Linked DNA regions of Homo sapiens. The protein of the gene in region 1 interacts with the protein of each later gene in a pairwise test. Each region holds a gene or a part of one and is shown in the gene's direction. Other genes may lie near its edges.

Region 1 (5,102 bases):
GCCTCCCGCTCAGCCCAGCCCCAGTGATTCTGGGCAAGACAAGCAGGGCCGCTAACCTCGTTAGTGTTATTATAACAAGTCGTATTCCTCGGGCATTTTCGACACCATTGAAGCCCTTTCTCATCTATTATTTCACTTTAGGCATCAAATTATCTCATTGTCTAAAATAAACCAGGCTGAATTTTTAAAAATAATAAAATAAAATAAACCAGGCTGCGGGCAGAAAGGTTTCGAGGGAATCTTCATTTCTAGTGAAAGATTACTACAAGTGTATTCAGCCCACAGACGTTGAAATCCTGCCAAGCGAAAGCCCTAACAGGCTCCTAAGGATCCCGCCTGTCTCTGTTGGAGAGTGGCAGTGGGGGAGGGGTAGTAGAAAAACCTGGAAAGAGCGCTTGTAGCATTTGCATTTGTTCAACTGGGAGAGAAACTGCCACTCCAGGCTTTAGGAAAGTGTGAGAGGGGGCGCCTCTTCTGGTTCTGGCCCTAGGAGGGTCAAACCTGGGTGAGGGAAGTGTGAGGCTAAAAGCCTGAGATCAAAGTGTTTCCTTCTGCCACACCTCGGGAGCATCCTGGTTGTTTGGGTTTGTGGAAAGGGAATACCTCCTTTGTCATCTACTCCACTAATACGAGTTTATTGACTCTTGGTTTTAGGCAAAGCCTGGAAATGCTACAGGGTGGAGATGTAGTGGGGTGGCATTATAGGTATTGGTTGAGGGAGAAGCGCAAATTGTAGGAAAGGTTTGTGTGAGCACCCTGCCTCCTTCGATCAGAGCAACTCACTCAGCGTTCAAAACCAGTGAGGAGCTAACCAGCAAGCTCTCAGGCTTCGCTAAGGCTGGGAATAACAGGGTCCTGTGGTAACAGTCTTATAGTTCTAAGAGGACAAAGTATTCTCTTGCTTTTATTTATTTTTATTTATTTATTTTTTTCCTGAGACAGGGTCTCACTCTGTCACCCAGGCTGGAGTGCAGTTGCATGATCACAGCTCACTGCAGCCTCAAACTCCTGGGCTCCATCGATCCTCCCACTTCAGCCTCCCAAGTAGCTGGGACTACAGGCACACACCACCATGCCCAGCTAATTTTTGTATTTTTTTTTTATAGGGACGGGATCTTGCCATGTTGTGCAGGCTGGTCTCAAACTCCTGGGCTTAAGCGACCTGCCCACCTCAGCCTCCCAAAGTGCCAGGATCACAGGCATGAGCCACTGATCCCCTCTTGTTTTCCTTGACAATTGGGACCTTAGAGACTGGGGATTCTGAATTCGGTTTAGGTTTTGCCCAGTATGACATGCTCATTAGCAAACTAGAAGACCATTATTGCTGGTCATGGGGCTTCTCCAATATCTGGGGTAGACAGCCTTCTCCTAAGTGAACATATCCCTTGTTACTTCATTAAATTCCCTGGGTTTCTATCATCATACTTCAGCCATCGTTTTTACTTCTATTCAATTTAATGATTTGACATTTCAGGTTCCTGTTGGGTGCTTTTTTCCTTTGTCAACTTTCAAGGCCTCTCCTGCTGGAGAAGCTAGTCTCCCACCCCTCCTCCTGCAGTCCATTCCTTTGCCAAGAGGGCTCCTATATTTTTAGGAAGAAGAGCAGGGCACATTCTTGATTTACATCTGGTTTGTCTGCTTTGACCTGTCCCTGGCTCCCAGCTTCGTTCTTGGTTTCCTTGGAACACAAGAGTATAAGCAATTTGAGGGTAGGGCTGTGTTTTACTTGCTTGGTTTTCCCTTGGCTTTTAGTTATACAGCCAATATTCAATAAAGGTTTCTTCAGTTGGATGACTACTTAAATATTGACGTGGTCCCTTGTAAAGATTTTACAACTTTATACTGTGCTAGAAAATCCTTATTAATGTTTAAAAGTTGTTTTCCTTCCGTTTTAACCACATGCAGTAACTCTCATAGCCTGATGGAAGTCCTGATAGTGCTGTGTATATACATACGAATCAGTGAGAATGGGCATGCAGCCTGTTGGTATGTAAATGGTACCTGTAAACAATTGGGTTGGGGAAGAAGTGTATTTTAAACACCATCCTTTCAATCTTGTATTATGTAACTAATAACCATAACAGATTAATAACTAACACTTCTTGAACATTCACAATGTACCTGCATAATCTAATTTAATATTTACATCAACTCTTTGGAATGGATTTATTTATTTATTTGTTTATTTATTTATTTATTTTGAGACGGAGTCTTGTTCTGTCGCCCAGGCTGGAGTGCAGTGGCACGATCTCAGCTCACTGCAGTCTCCACCTCCTGGGTTCAAGCAATTCCCCTGTCTCAGCCTCCTCAGTAGCTGGGACTACAGGCGCACGCCACCACACTCGGCTAATTTTTGTATTTTTCGTAGAGATGGGGTTTCACCATATTAGTCAGGCTGGTCTCGATCTCCTGATCTCAAATGATCCACCAGCCTCGGCCTCCCAAGGTGCTGGGATTACAGGCATGAGCCACTGCGCCCGACCAAATGGGTACTATTATCATCCATTTTCATTTTATAAAGAAGGAAATTGAGGCTTGGAAAAAATTAAGTATCTTGCCCAATGCCTCACAATGAAGAGCAGAGCCTGAATTGTCTATGAAGAAAGAATTGTTAAGAACACTCAGTAACTAAACTAATGCTAAAGAAATTCTTGTAACACTTAAGAATTGTCTATGAAGCAGAGGTAAATGTGAGCTCAGAACCTTTCCAAATGGTCAAAATGTCCTTATTAGGTAGGGAAACCAACCATCCCAGTCCTGTGACATAGGACTGCCTGTGCTCAAACTGGAACAGTCCTAGGGAAACTGGGATGGTTGGTCACCCTGTTGTTAGGGGACTTCCCCCTTGTCATTTGAATATGCTTCTAATACTGGAAAACTTAGGAGGGAGATAGAATATTCTGGGCAAACAGCAGAAGTTTCCAATTTAAATGTAGCATATGAAAAAGCTTCCCAAGTTGACATTTGAAGAGCCTTCCTTAATTTTTCTGACCTGTAAGGTATAACAACCTGTAACAGGAGCTTTGACAGTATTCGTTGTGATTGCTGTTGCTGTAACCTCAAATTTTTTTCTAAGATTTTACCCAAAACCTCTTAATCAGCTCTATTCTACCTTTGACCCCAGAGCGTACCTGGCTAGTGTGGTCTGAAATACTCTGAATCCGATTTCCCTTCCAGCTCTAAAAACCCTAGGATTCTACCTTTAAGCTTCTGACCTGGCCCCAACTGGTTCCCATATATAAATGCTCAGAAAATGATAAAAATAGCAAACATTTCTAATTGCTTTATGTGTGCTAATTCATTTAATATCCCCTATTAATATAGTAACAAAGGGGAAGGATATAGATTCAGAGATCAGGTTTTCAAGAAAAATTTGTGCAAAAAATTATTTGTGCTTCTCTAAGTGAGTCTCAGAACAAGTAATTTCATAATGTATATTCCTGGACCTGGCTTCTGAGGTGGTGGCCACTCACACGGCATGATTTGAGTGGCTGCCTGCTGCAGTGCCTAAGTTCATACTATTTAAGATTCAGTTCTCTGTCCATGTACCATCTAAAATTCCTCTCCCAGAGCACCGCTGGTATGTAGACCACACTGTGAGAAACCCTGTATTAGAGATTGCAACGCATTGTCAACTAATTTACCATTTGATTTTGAGGATGGAGTTACTCGCTGTAGAGCGGTTTTGGGTTTCTGTGTGGTTAAGCCTGTCATTCTTTGCCTTTGTGATTTTTGCTTTTGGTATCAAGCTTCAAAAGTCCTTTCATAGCCCAAAGTAATTTAAAATAACTATTTCCTGAGTGCCTAGTGGTCTGACAAAGAATAGGCATTCTTGGATTAAGGGACCTTCTCCATTAAAAGCACAAATGCATTTGCAAACTTAACATTCATGGTTTGGATACTTCATGAGAACTCAGACTGGTAAGAAACTGTGTTTTTGCTGAGGCACAGATGTGAATCACATGTGCAAGGAGACTAGTAGGTGGGGGCCGGTCCTTTCACCAATGAGTGAGCCTGGTGCCCTACCCCACATCTACTAGTGTGTGTGTGTGTGTGTGTGTGTGTGTGTGAAAGAGAAAGAGAGAGATGTATTATATGCATATATTGTACATAGTACATATATATATATAGTGGTAAAATAGATATAAAATTTGCCATTTTAACCATTTCTAAGTGTACGATTCAGTAGCATTAGGTATATTAACAATGTTGTGCAACCATTATCATTCCCAAAATTTTGTCATCATCCCAAACAAAAACTCTGTACCCATTAAAGAATAACTCACCGTTTCCCTATTTTCCCCTCCCACTACCCCCTGGTAACCTCTATTCTACTTTCTGTCTCTATGGATTTGCCTATTTAGATATTTCATATAAATTGAATCATACAATATTTTGTGTCTGATTTCTTTCACTCAACATGTTTTAAAGTTCATCCATGTTGTAGCACATATCAGTACTTCATTCTTTTTATGGCTGAATAAAATTCCATTGTATGGATATACCTCTTTTGCTTATCCATTCATCTGTCAGTGGACACTTAGGTTGTTGCCCTCTTTTGGCTATTATGAAGAATGCTGCTATGAACACTGGTGTACAAGTATCTGTTCAAGTCCCTGCTTTTAATTCTTTGGGGTATATACCTAGGAGTGGCATTGCCCAGCACCTACTTTTCAACACAATTTTGTGGTCTACTGCTCGTAGTCAACACATACGTAGGAACCTGTCATAAAATGAGCAAATGTCTCAGGGCATTCCTTGAGGAGAATGCTCCCTCTCTAAGCCAGCTGCTGGTGCTAGTGATTACAACGAAGAGAAAGCTACAAAGTTTGGCAAAGTGATGGTGCTGCCTGGGAATGGACTTTTTATGGGGGAAATGACATGCTTTGGAGATTGCATCCATGAGTTGGAGACTGGCAAAAGTTTTAGTGTGTATCTCTCATGAATGGCCAAGGTCTAGCATACCTTTTTAAAGAGTAACATGTGACACCATTACTTGCCATTAACTACTTTGTATGGATTTGTTTATCAGACCTCTGGTCATGGTGACAGCCCACTGGGAATAGGGTCCTATGGGACTGGAATGTGGCAAAGCCAACTTT
Region 2 (4,139 bases), on another chromosome or scaffold:
AACGGGACAGGTCCTAAAGAAAAGGGACGTCCACGGGTTCCTCCCCCAGCGAGCCTGGCCCAGGCATTTCTGGGACCAGCTCCAGAAGCCTCGCCCCCACTCGCGGCAGGTCTGACCCCATCCTCCATCGCCCCGCCCAGCCCACCTCTACCTTCGCCGCGCGGACAGAAGCCCCGCCTCTCACCGCTGCTCTTCAGCGTCCGCGCTCCGATTAGGCCAATCCCCAGCCGTCCGCCCCGACTTTCGACAGATCCTTAGAAGTCCCTGCCCCGCACGTGGCCCAGCCCGGGGATGTCTGGCTCCCCTTTTGCCCCCAGTTTGGCTTAAAAGGGTTCCTTCCCACAGCCTTGTGTCAGGAGCTCTCAGACGCCAGTGCAGCCCAGGCGGCCGGCCCGGGCTGTGGGGAGACCCCCAAGTGCGGGGAGGAGGTGTTGCCGGGGCCCTGAAAGCTTCCAGACCCGCTCAGTGTAAACCGCCTCGGGTTTGTGTCAACATCCGAGGCCGGAGACTGGCGGCGGCTGGGGACCGGCTCCGTCTGCGGGACGGGAAAACGGGAGGGTGGGGAATGGAGGATCCATGGCTAGGCATAGGGGTCCTTCGGGGGAGAACGCGAGAGGCCTCTTGGGGGTCCATGAGAAAGGAGGAGGGCCCGTCTGGGGAGGGACCGGAATGAAGGGCCAGAGGGGTGGCTGGAGGGAACCCACGACTAGCGCGGGGCTAGGTAGAGGCTGGGACTTCGCCACCCATACCGCGCTCTCCGCGCGCAACCAGCACCCTCCTCTCTGCCCCACGGCGTGAGGGGAGTGGATGCGTGGGGAGGGGGGACGCAGAGATGTGGACTGCTGACCAGCCACCTCCTCCCTCTCCCACCCAGCTCCTCCCCAGCTCCTCTTTGGCCCCTCCCAATTTCGGGTGGGATATGGGTGTGGGGGGGGGTCTCATCTTGTGACTCATCCCCTCTTCCGCCCCCACCCATGCTGGGGCCCAGGAAAGGAAGCTTAGAGATTCGGCTGTGGTTCTCCCGTTTCCATAGCAACGGTGAGGTTGTTTTTGAGAATCCACTTTCATCGTCGACCCTTTCCACCCCAGACTTGTAAGCCGGGGGCTGAGCCTCAGGGCAGGGGTGCAGATGGGGGTGCAGCCCTCCCGCTTCCCGGCGACTCCGGGAAGGTCAGCGCGGGCAGGCGGGGCGCGCTCCTGCGGCCGGGCCTCGCCGGCCACCCGGTCCCCACCTGAAACCCCGCCTGCCACTCCGCTCCAGAGGAGCCAATAGCCGTGCAACCTGCCCGGGATGGGGCGGGGCTTATGCAAATAGTGTCGCCTTCGGGAGGCACATAGTGATACAAGAGCTGGAAGGCGGCTCCGGCGCAGACCTTGGAGAGCACAGCTGCCGGCCCGCGAGCCAGCCTCGGTTCCCGCGGCCCGCCGAGGCTCGGAGCCATCCAGCGACCCGGCGACCGGCCTCAGGTAATGCGAGTGGGACCGGGTCCTCAAGGCAACAAACCCACCGGGCGGAGGCCCTGGCCCCCTCCCCCTCCACTCTCCCTTCCCATCCTCATGTCCTGCCCTGATTCACCTCCCTGACCCGTGGTTCCGCCTTAGGCGGCAGCAACTGAAGAGCCCACCCCTGGGCAGGAGACCCCCCACCTCAGTCCAGGCCCATGGGTGCAGAGAAGGAGGCAGAGCCGCCTACTTATCCCCAGCTCAGGTGAGAACAACCATTGCTATGGCCCCCAACATACACGCGCGCAAACACACATACACACACAGATGCACACACACACATCTGGGGGTGTGGTGGCGCTGGTGCTAGCTGGAGGCGCTGGTCACCCTCCCTCCTGTTTGGATATGGGTTGTCTGCCCAGCACCATGGCAAACTCCCACCTCCACGGATAGCCCCTAGCCACTTCTCATCAGGGAGCCCCTGCCCCCAAAGACAGCCTCCCCCTCCACAGAGCGCTCCCTCCTTGTTGTCCCCAGACACTGTCCCCACATCCCACCCCTCAAGCTGACAGAGCCCACAGCATACCTGAGGGGGGGACAATCCCCCTTCCCCAGTTTTTCTCCTCACAGTCTCGACAGCCCTCCCCAGTGGCCCCCAGTGCTAGGCAGAGGCCCCATATTTGGCATCTCTCATCCTGGCGGGAGGATGAACCAAAGACACCACCCCCAGCAGACCACCCATACCGTCAGTCCAGTTGCTGCCAAGGCCCCAACCTCCATACCTCCTCCCTCCCCCCTCACAGCCAGGCACCAAATCCTCTCATTCTGCCTGTCAAATGTCTTTCTAATTTGTATGACTATTTGCTCCCTCTCTCCCACCTTCCTGCTGCTCCGTGGGGACCTTGCCAAGGTGCCATGTGGGCTGTATTGCTCTTGGCCCTAAAGTGAACTATACCTGGAGGGCAGATGAGCTGGGTTCAAATCTTGTACAGCCAAAGTTTGACTTTGGCCAAGTCACTCCCCTCTCTGATCCTTCATGAAAATGGGGAGAGGTATAACAGAGAGGGTAGACTGGGTGAGATGAACTTGAACAGCCTTCTGGCACTGAGACACTCTGGTTCTATGGCTGATTATGGAAAAACAGGATCCTGAACCAAGAGGACATTAAAGAGAGGAGACCTGAGGGGGGCGGGGTTGGTTTAGAACTCACTGAAGACACATTCCTTCTTAACCAGCCTAGGTACAGGCTACCTCCTCCCACACATTCTCCAGGCCCCTTCTATTAGGAGTCCCTCCTAGACCACCAGCCCATCCTGACATGGACAGCTCCAAATTGTAGGTGGCCAGCTGGGATTACTCTTTGTTTGTCATCCCCTGCCTCTCATTAAGAAGAAGAGGGAAAAGACCTGGTTGCTGCTGCTATTGCTGCTGCTTGGGGAAGAGCAAAGGGAGGAGAGGAAAGAGAGAAAAAATCTCCTGACCAGGGAGCTATTGTCACCATGGCAACCACCTCAGTACCAGCTCCTCTGAAGCTGGGTGAGGGTGTGGGATTATTGCCTCCTTCAGTCCCTCCCATTCAAAGCCTCAGCCACCTCTCCATTCAAAGCCCACAGCCCTTAGCCCTCTTGAAGAAACCTCTGGGCACACTGGGACAATGGTTTTGTGTATGGGACAGTCCCAGCTCCTTCATAGCTGGAGGACAGCCCTCAAGAGGTAAGCAGAGGAGCCTGCCCATGTTCAGCAGGGCCACAGCTCCAGCAGAGCATGTCCCCAGCTGGGTTCTGGCCTTCACTTTGCTGCTGATGGGCTATAGTTGACCTGGGGTGAACCCTTCCTTCCCCTAGGTCTGGGTTCCATTGTCTCTGAAGTGGGTGTGATAGCAGGAGAACACAGATAAACAAAACAGCCTGACATAGATCCAGGGAGGAAGAAGGGGGTTCTGCTCCTCTTACGTAATCCACCAAGAGACATTCATTGAACATCACTGTGTCCTAGGCATTGCCACTGCGTCTCCACAGAGCAGTTCTGTGCAGGCACAGAAGGCAGGGTGGGAACCAGGGTAGGGGAGCTATAAGAGAGAAAAAACCCCTGCTCTCATGGGTCCCAGACTCAGTGAGGACTAAGCACTCACTGGGAGAAGTGAGTGCATAGGGAAAAGCACTTTTATTTTCCCCATGGGAAAAATAAACTTTTCTCACGCTTCAACCTGCTCAAAAGTGGACTGGGGCATATTGGAGGGGATCAACTCCTTGCCATTGAGCAAAAAGGTCTGGAGGATTTTTTTTCTGACTCAGGCAGGGGTTTAATGCAAAGACCTGTCTCAAATCAGACTGCATCCTGGAATTCTACAGCACCAGGTGAGGGTCAGAGGGCTATGAAGTCTACACGCCTGTGGGGGACTGACTCATGCCCAAAGTGCTGAGCTTGGGCTGCTGACTCTCCACTGTCCAGACTGGAAAAGGCTGATCATAAGGAAGCAGGCTTCAACCAGGCCCTGAAGACTGATTATAGTCCAGGAGAGAAGAAAGGATATTAGGGGAGAGGAAAATAGCTTAGCAAAGAGGTGAGGCGTGTCTGGCTGTGAGAAGGCTGGCTTGAGAGGAGTATGCGGTGGTGAGTGAGCAATGAGAGCTGAGGCGAGATAGGTGGGCACTTTGAGACCAGATTCTAGAGGATTCTAGAGTTTCAGGGGGCCC
Region 3 (3,500 bases), on another chromosome or scaffold:
ATTTGTGAGTGTATACCGAAATCAAAAAGTGGCTCTGGCTGAATTACAAAGCACAGAGCTGTGTGCTGAAGCTTTCATAGCATCACAACCTCTTAAGGTGTTAGAAATAATGACAAGCGAGAAGACAGTATGCTTAATACACCACAGAAGCACCATGGAGCCTTTTGGGGGATGTTTAGGAGTCTGTATCTTTTTGGTAATGTCAATAATATGTTCACACTGACCCTGTCCCTACAGGGACAATTAGGTCAGGTTTAGTTGTCTTTGTGCCAAGAGCAATGCTTTCTTTGGCATCAGATCCACAGGCTGTGTTTGTTTTGCTGTCCTCCAGGCCTTCGAGAGCAGAGGGTTCTGTGATTTCTGATCTCCTCTCTATACCGTTCATTTGACAGGAACACCTGATTGAGAATGAAGTGTCAATACTGCGCCGAGTGAAACATCCCAATATCATTATGCTGGTCGAGGAGATGGAAACAGCAACTGAGCTCTTTCTGGTGATGGAATTGGTCAAAGTAAGAGGATAGAGAGATTTTCTTGGTGCCTAGTCCCACAATTTACAACATCCTTGAAGGACCTAATCAGAAAAGTGTATTGCTACCTCATAACTTTCATTATTTATAATCGCCGATTTTAGTGGCACTTGTGTCATTCTCTGCTTTATGCCAATGAGCCATCTTTCTTACCTTCATAGGATTGCACTGTTGATGCTTTGATATGTTCTTTTATGTATCGTTTAGGGTGGAGATCTCTTTGATGCAATTACTTCGTCGACCAAGTACACTGAGAGAGATGGCAGTGCCATGGTGTACAACTTAGCCAATGCCCTCAGGTATCTCCATGGCCTCAGCATCGTGCACAGAGACATCAAACCAGAGAATCTCTTGGTATGTCATCCCTGCTTTTTCTGTTCCAATGAATGCCTCTCTTCCTTTAAAAGGAGCACATGCAAATAATGGCATTTTATAGTCTATACCAATCCTACATTATGAGACTTTAAATTTAGAAAATTAGCAAGACTTATGTCAATGACCATCAAATACTAATGGAGTTCTTGAATTTTTCTGCATTTGTTATTTACCACTCTGCTATATTTCTCACTCTGCTATAAAGAACTACCTGAGACTGGGTAATTTATGAAGAAAAGAGGTTTGATTGACTCACAGTTCCACAGGCTTAACAGGAAGGCCTCAGGAGACTTACAATCATGGCGGAAGGCGAAGGGGAAGCAAGCACCTTCTTCACATGGTGGCAGGAGAGAAAGAGAGCGAGGAGGGAAGTGCCACACATTTTTAAACCATCGTATGTTATGAGAACTCACTACCACAGGAACAGCATGGGGGAAATCTGCTTCCATAATCAAGTCACCTCCCATAAGGTGCCTCCCCCAACATTGGGAATTACAGTTCAACATGAGATTTGGGTGGGGACACAGAGCCAAAGCATGTCACCAGATACAAGAAAATACATTTTCATTTATATTTTAATTGATGGTACTGACTTAAAGGTGAGCAGGAAAATTATTTTATAGGGCAGAAAATTGTGAAGAATAAATTTGAGACAGAATTAGAGGCTCATAGGAGACAGGAGTAGAATGTGGGGGTTCATTTATTTGCAGGGAATAATTTTGGAAATAGTCTAGTCCATTCATCTCAGCTTTACTAAAGGCATGGAAACAGAGACCAAGAGATGCCATTTTTTTTTCTTAGAAGTCTCTTTTATCCTATTATTCTACAGAATAAAAAGTCTTATTCCACTATGGTACCCAGAGTTCTTCATAGTCTGATCTCAATTTGTCTTTTCAGCTTCCTGTCCTGTTAATAACTCTTATCCATCCAACCCAACATGGTCTAAGCTTCAAGCCATATTGAACTCACCTTCATGGTGACTCTTGATAACTAGACACAGCTTGCTAATTGGGAACCAATCCTCGTGACCACGTTATAGAAGAATTTTAGAGAAACTGGTTGGGGGATTTGACATTTACACTCCTCCCAGCCCCCCACAAACACACATGACATAGTTGGCTTCTTTATTTCCACCTTTCAGGGCTCTCATCCTCATTCCTGCTTGGGAGGCAAGCTTATCTGAGTCTTCTACATCATGTTAATCCAAACACAGATTCCTCCATCCTCAGTTTTTAGTTAAGACTTGACTTACCAGCAGCCTTACACCTCCATTGCTTCTGTCCATACTGGTCTTCATTTGCAGCGTCCTCTCTTCCAGCATTGTGGTAAACCATTCATCTTGTAATACATTGAGCAAAAGTTAAGTCTTCTTTAACATCACTCTAGACTTTCTAGACAAAGTTCAGTCACAGCCACCTCGGGTTTCTGCTGCACTTGCTACGGTGTTGTGATCTTTATCATACACTTGTCTGCCTCTTTGGGATTGTAAGTACCATGGAGGCAAGGTTTGTGTCTAATTATCTTTATATCTCCAATGGTTTGGATGGTGACACGTAAACACATAACGGACAGCAGAGTATTGCTCACTGACCACTGACACTCACTCAGCTAGCAGCTGGTGCTAGAGCATGAGCCTCTACAGCCTGCTGTGAGCACCACACAAATAACTGTTGAAAGGAATATGCATTGATGCACAGCATCTGAAGCCATCCTGGGGACTTTTTATTTTTTGGCTAATCTAATCCAGAGTACCCGTCTTTTCTTTTTGGTAATATCATTTGATGATTTCTGAGTATCCATTTAAAAGTATTTGAAATTTTATCTCACTGTCTTCTGCCTTGAGGGAATTATATTTCATTTCTATATGTTCTTATTAGGAAAAGAAATATCCCTGCTCTGTGTTAAAAAAAAAAAAAAAGGGGGATTGTGGACGTGGTTTTATGAACTCTAACAAGGAATGGAGACAGAGTTGTAAACCGAGCCTCAGGAGGAAAGTTAGGATATGGCGTTCTCTCCTCAAAACAGGCTTCTCGCCCATTGGGACCTTGCAGCATGCCAGGCTCCTCCACCGTCGAACTGAGTTTGGCCCGGGCTTCGCAAACAAAGGCACAGGGCTTTCTCCAGGTGTGACCAGACACAAACACTGGGGCATTCATAAGGATACCCCCTTGACTGCTTCCTGCTCTCCACAACCTGCCTTGCCCCACTGGCTCTAGTTACTGCATTCTCTGAAAATATGGGAGCCACAGGTTCCCAAGGAACCCCTGCAGCCAGTCTGTCCAACAGCCCTGATTTAAGGCCCAGCAAAGAAGGTGACTGAGGTGCTTGTGAGCTTCCCTATAAACCAGGGAGTCCATTTCCCAGCTCACAGATCTCACTCTCACCTCCTGTTTCTTCTCTTTTCCACTCAGAGTTTCTTAATGTATGTAAAGAATCTGACACCGCCTCCTTTTTTCTTGTCACACATCAAGGGTGGATAATGTTTTTCACTTCTTCAGGAGAATTGGCTAAAATTTAAAAAATTTAAGAGTAAGTAATGTAATGGGGATTGATGTCTCCAACATCATGAGTCTCAGAATGCAATCAGGAAATCAG
Region 4 (3,500 bases), on another chromosome or scaffold:
ACTGAAGGGGAGGATCTCGGAACTGCAGTGGAGCGTGATGGACCAGGAGATGCGGGTGAAGCGCCTGGAGTCGGAGAAGCAGGAGCTGCAGGAGCAGCTGGACCTGCAACACAAGTGGGCGGGGCCAGGGTGTGGGGTCGGGGGTCGGGTCACGTGTGGGGGCATGCGTCCCACCTCTCTCCTGGTGGCTGGGTGGGATGTGGATACACTCCCAGATGCTGTCCTAATTCACAGACACTCAAGAGGGGCAGATGCTGAGGCCTCTGGAGCCAGGACCGTGAGCCCAGAAAGTGTCCTGATGTTCCTGGAGCAGAATGGGGGCAGCAACTTCCTCCCCCTCCTTCTTAGAGAGGGCTCCTGCAGAGCCAGATTTTACTTTATTTTTTGAGACAGGGTCTCACTCTGTCGTCCAGCCTGGAGTGCAATGGTGTAATCATGGCTCACTGTAGCCTCAACCTCCTGGGCTCAAGTGATCCTCCTGCCTTAGCCTCCCGAGTAACTGGGTCTGCAAGCATGTGCAGTACACCTGGCTAATTTTTTTTTTTTTGAGATTGAGTCTCGCTGTGTCACCCAGGCTGGAGTGCAGTGGCACCATCTCGGCTCACTGCAGCCTCCGCCTCCTGGGTTCAGTGATTCTCCTGCCTCGGCCTCCTGAGTAGCTGGGATTAGTTTTGCACCTGGCTAATTTTAAAAAACGTTTTGTAGAGATGGCGGTCTCGCTTTGTAACCCAGGCTGGTCTTGAGCTCCTGGCCTCAAGCGATCCTCCTGCCTCAGCCTCCTAGAGTGCTGGGATCCCAGGCTGAGCCGCCGTACCCTGCTGAGGGCTAGGTTGAAAGGGCAGCATCATGTGCCTTGGAGGTGGAGGGGGCGTGGCTGGGAAGGGATGTCCAGGCACAGGGCTGAGCCGAGGCACAGACGTGAGAGCCTTGTCTGGAGGTGCAGTCAGGAGACTGTGGGCATCTCCTGCAGACTTGGACCCTTCCATCAGCAGATGTGGTTTTAGGAGAGTTCTAGTTCCGTAGTAGAGAGGAGAGGTCATTCCTGGGTGGGGCCCTACCGCAGCTGCACCAGGGCTGGGGGTTGCCGCAGGCAGGTGAGAGCTGTGGGTTCCACTGTTGGAGAGGTCCTTGCAGGTGGCCTGGGCTCACTACGCACCCCGTCTGAATGAGCAGACTGAGGCCTGAGAGCCAGCCCACAGGGGCTGGGGCCTGGGACCTTGGGGTACCCATGCAGTGGAGTGTGTGTTGGCGGGGGGCGGGGGGTCTGTGCCGTGGGAGGTCCTGAACCTTGGGGTGGGAATGAACGTATGTGGGTCTGTGCTGGGGCGGGTCTCAGGCTGAGGAGAATTGTTGGCCTTGCCGCATGCCTGTTTCTGTGTGTGATGTATTTTTCTTTCAATAGAAAATGCCAGGAAGCCAATCAGAAAATCCAGGAACTCCAGGCCAGCCAAGAAGCAAGAGCAGACCACGAGCAGCAGATTAAGGTGAGTCACTCCCTGTCAGTGCCTTGTGGACATCCCTGTGGTGGCCTTGACTCTCCTGCCCCTGTCGGCCTTTCTGCGCTGGTGCCGAGCTCCGTGGTCCTTCTGTGAGGTTAGCTGCTGCCCTGTGTGTTGGGCACTGTGCTGGGCACCAGGGATGCCATGGTGAATGAGGCAGATGCTTCCGCTCTTGGGAGCGTGTATTCTAGAGGAGGGAGACTGACCACAAACACCAAGAGAAAATGTCCGTGTGTGTGATGACGTCAAGTGCTGATGAGCGTGAGAAGATGCTACAGGCATAGAGAGGTTGAGAAAGCTGCCCACAGTTGCACAGCTGGAGCTGGGTCTCAGTCAGGGCATCTGACTCAAGCTCAGGCTGTGCCATTTCCCTGCGGAGGACGTGCCAGGGAGACGTTGACTCCAGATCCCTCTCCTGCCTCCTGTTGCCTGGAGAGCAGCCTCCAGACCCTGTGCTCTGGCCGTGCCCTCTCAGCCCTTATGCACCCTCACCTCCAGGCTTCACACCAGCTCTTCCTGGCTGCAGAGCTGCCCGGCACCCCCAGCCTGGCCTCTGCCATGTCCGCTCCTGGTGGTGGTCCCTGGCCCCTCGCAGCCCTCAGTCCACCTCTCAGGATTTTCTGGCTGGCAGGGCGATGGACTCTGTTAGTGTTTGTTGAATGACCGTCTGGTTTGGTCGTGGTTTCATACTCTGCCTGTTCAGTGACTTGCTGCTCACAGATGCCAGCTGTCTGTGTCCCAAGGGGACTGGGTACCGTAGGGAAAAGCCTGTCCTCACTATTGGAAAGACTGAGCTGTCACACGTGCTGCTAGAGTGGCAGAAGTGGGCTTGACACGGGAGGGGTGGGATGTTTTACCATGGAGTGCCATCCTGGACCAGACTTGAGACAGACTTTTGCTCCTGGAGAGCTCCCCGAGGGCAGGTGGTGAGCACAGCAGCCCGGCAGTGTGCAGTGTGAATGCCAGCTCCCAGTACGCGGAGGGCTGGGAGGTCGGCGCTGGGAAGAGCTGCCCTGGAGTGGATGCTGAGGCTCAGTATTGGAAGCAGCTTCGAGGCCCCTGGTGCAGCCCAGGAAGGCCTCCCACAGGAGAGTCCTGAGGCATGGAGGCTGCTGAGGACCTGGGGCAGTTTAGCGAAGGAACTTTGTGACCTCAATGACTTTAATTTTTAATGGATGGTATTTTCTAGAGCAATTTTAGGTTCACAGCAAAATGAGCAGAAGGTAAAGCTCCTGTGTACCCCCTGCGCCCGCTCCTACACACACAGCCTACCCTGGTAGAGTGGAGCACGTGTGACGGTGATGAACCTGCCTGGACACATCAGTGTCACGCAGAGTCCACGGGTCATGCGAGGGTCACTCTTGGAGTGGGACAGTGTATGGTTCGGGCAGATGTAAAATGTTCTATATTTGCCATTAGAGTGTCACACAGAAAAGTTTTACTGCCTAAAAATCCTCTCTGCTCCCCCAGTCAATCCCTGCCTCTCTCCTTCTGAGCCCTTGACAACCCCTTCCTTTCCCAGAACGTCCTGTGGTTGGATCCTGCAGTGTGTATAGCCGTTGCAGACCGGCTTCCTTCTCTTAGCCGTGTGCGTGTGATTTTCTCCAGGTCTCTTCGTGGCTCATTTTTCCCTTCTTCTCTGTCCCTGGCCTCCATCAGGATCTGGAGCAGAAGCTGTCCCTGCAAGAGCAGGATGCAGCGATTGTGAAGAACATGAAGTCTGAGCTGGTACGGCTCCCTAGGCTGGAACGGGAGCTGAAGCAGCTGCGGGAGGAGAGCGCGCACCTGCGGTGAGGGGTTGCGGGGGATGGGGCAGCCGCCTCGAGTGAGTCTGGGTTTGTGCACATGGAGCCCACTGTGCAGACCCTGTAGGGGCAGGGCTCCCGGGCTCTTGGCCTTATCCCTAGGGTGTGTGGCTATTTGAGCGACTCTTTGTGGCACTGCCAGGGAGATGAGAGAGACCAACGGGCTGCTCCAGGAAGAGCTGGAAGGGCTGCAGAG

The links.
Region 2: the proteins of TSC22D3 (region 1) and HPCAL4 interact in a two-hybrid assay, tested with the Homo sapiens proteins (one large-scale study listed by BioGRID and IntAct).
Region 3: the proteins of TSC22D3 (region 1) and DCLK2 interact in a two-hybrid assay, tested with the Homo sapiens proteins (one large-scale study listed by BioGRID and IntAct).
Region 4: the proteins of TSC22D3 (region 1) and MAD1L1 interact in binary tests that used the Homo sapiens proteins (3 or more experiments, as listed by UniProt).

Annotation. Positions count from the first base shown.
Region 1 is NC_000023.11:107,768,684-107,773,785, reverse strand, and holds part of TSC22D3 (TSC22 domain family protein 3), read left to right. Parts: intron 1-5,102. UniProt on the Homo sapiens protein: Protects T-cells from IL2 deprivation-induced apoptosis through the inhibition of FOXO3A transcriptional activity that leads to the down-regulation of the pro-apoptotic factor BCL2L11.
Region 2 is NC_000001.11:39,688,634-39,692,772, reverse strand, and holds the start of HPCAL4 (hippocalcin-like protein 4), read left to right. Parts: upstream 1-1,339; 5' UTR 1,340-1,467; intron 1,468-1,602; exon of another isoform or gene 1,603-1,708; intron 1,709-4,139. UniProt on the Homo sapiens protein: May be involved in the calcium-dependent regulation of rhodopsin phosphorylation.
Region 3 is NC_000004.12:150,231,945-150,235,444, forward strand, and holds part of DCLK2 (serine/threonine-protein kinase DCLK2), read left to right. Parts: intron 1-392; coding exon 393-512; intron 513-737; coding exon 738-884; intron 885-3,500. UniProt on the Homo sapiens protein: Protein kinase with a significantly reduced C(a2+)/CAM affinity and dependence compared to other members of the CaMK family.
Region 4 is NC_000007.14:2,215,946-2,219,445, reverse strand, and holds part of MAD1L1 (mitotic spindle assembly checkpoint protein MAD1), read left to right. Parts: coding exon 1-114; intron 115-1,402; coding exon 1,403-1,484; intron 1,485-3,158; coding exon 3,159-3,289; intron 3,290-3,446; coding exon 3,447-3,500. UniProt on the Homo sapiens protein: Component of the spindle-assembly checkpoint that prevents the onset of anaphase until all chromosomes are properly aligned at the metaphase plate.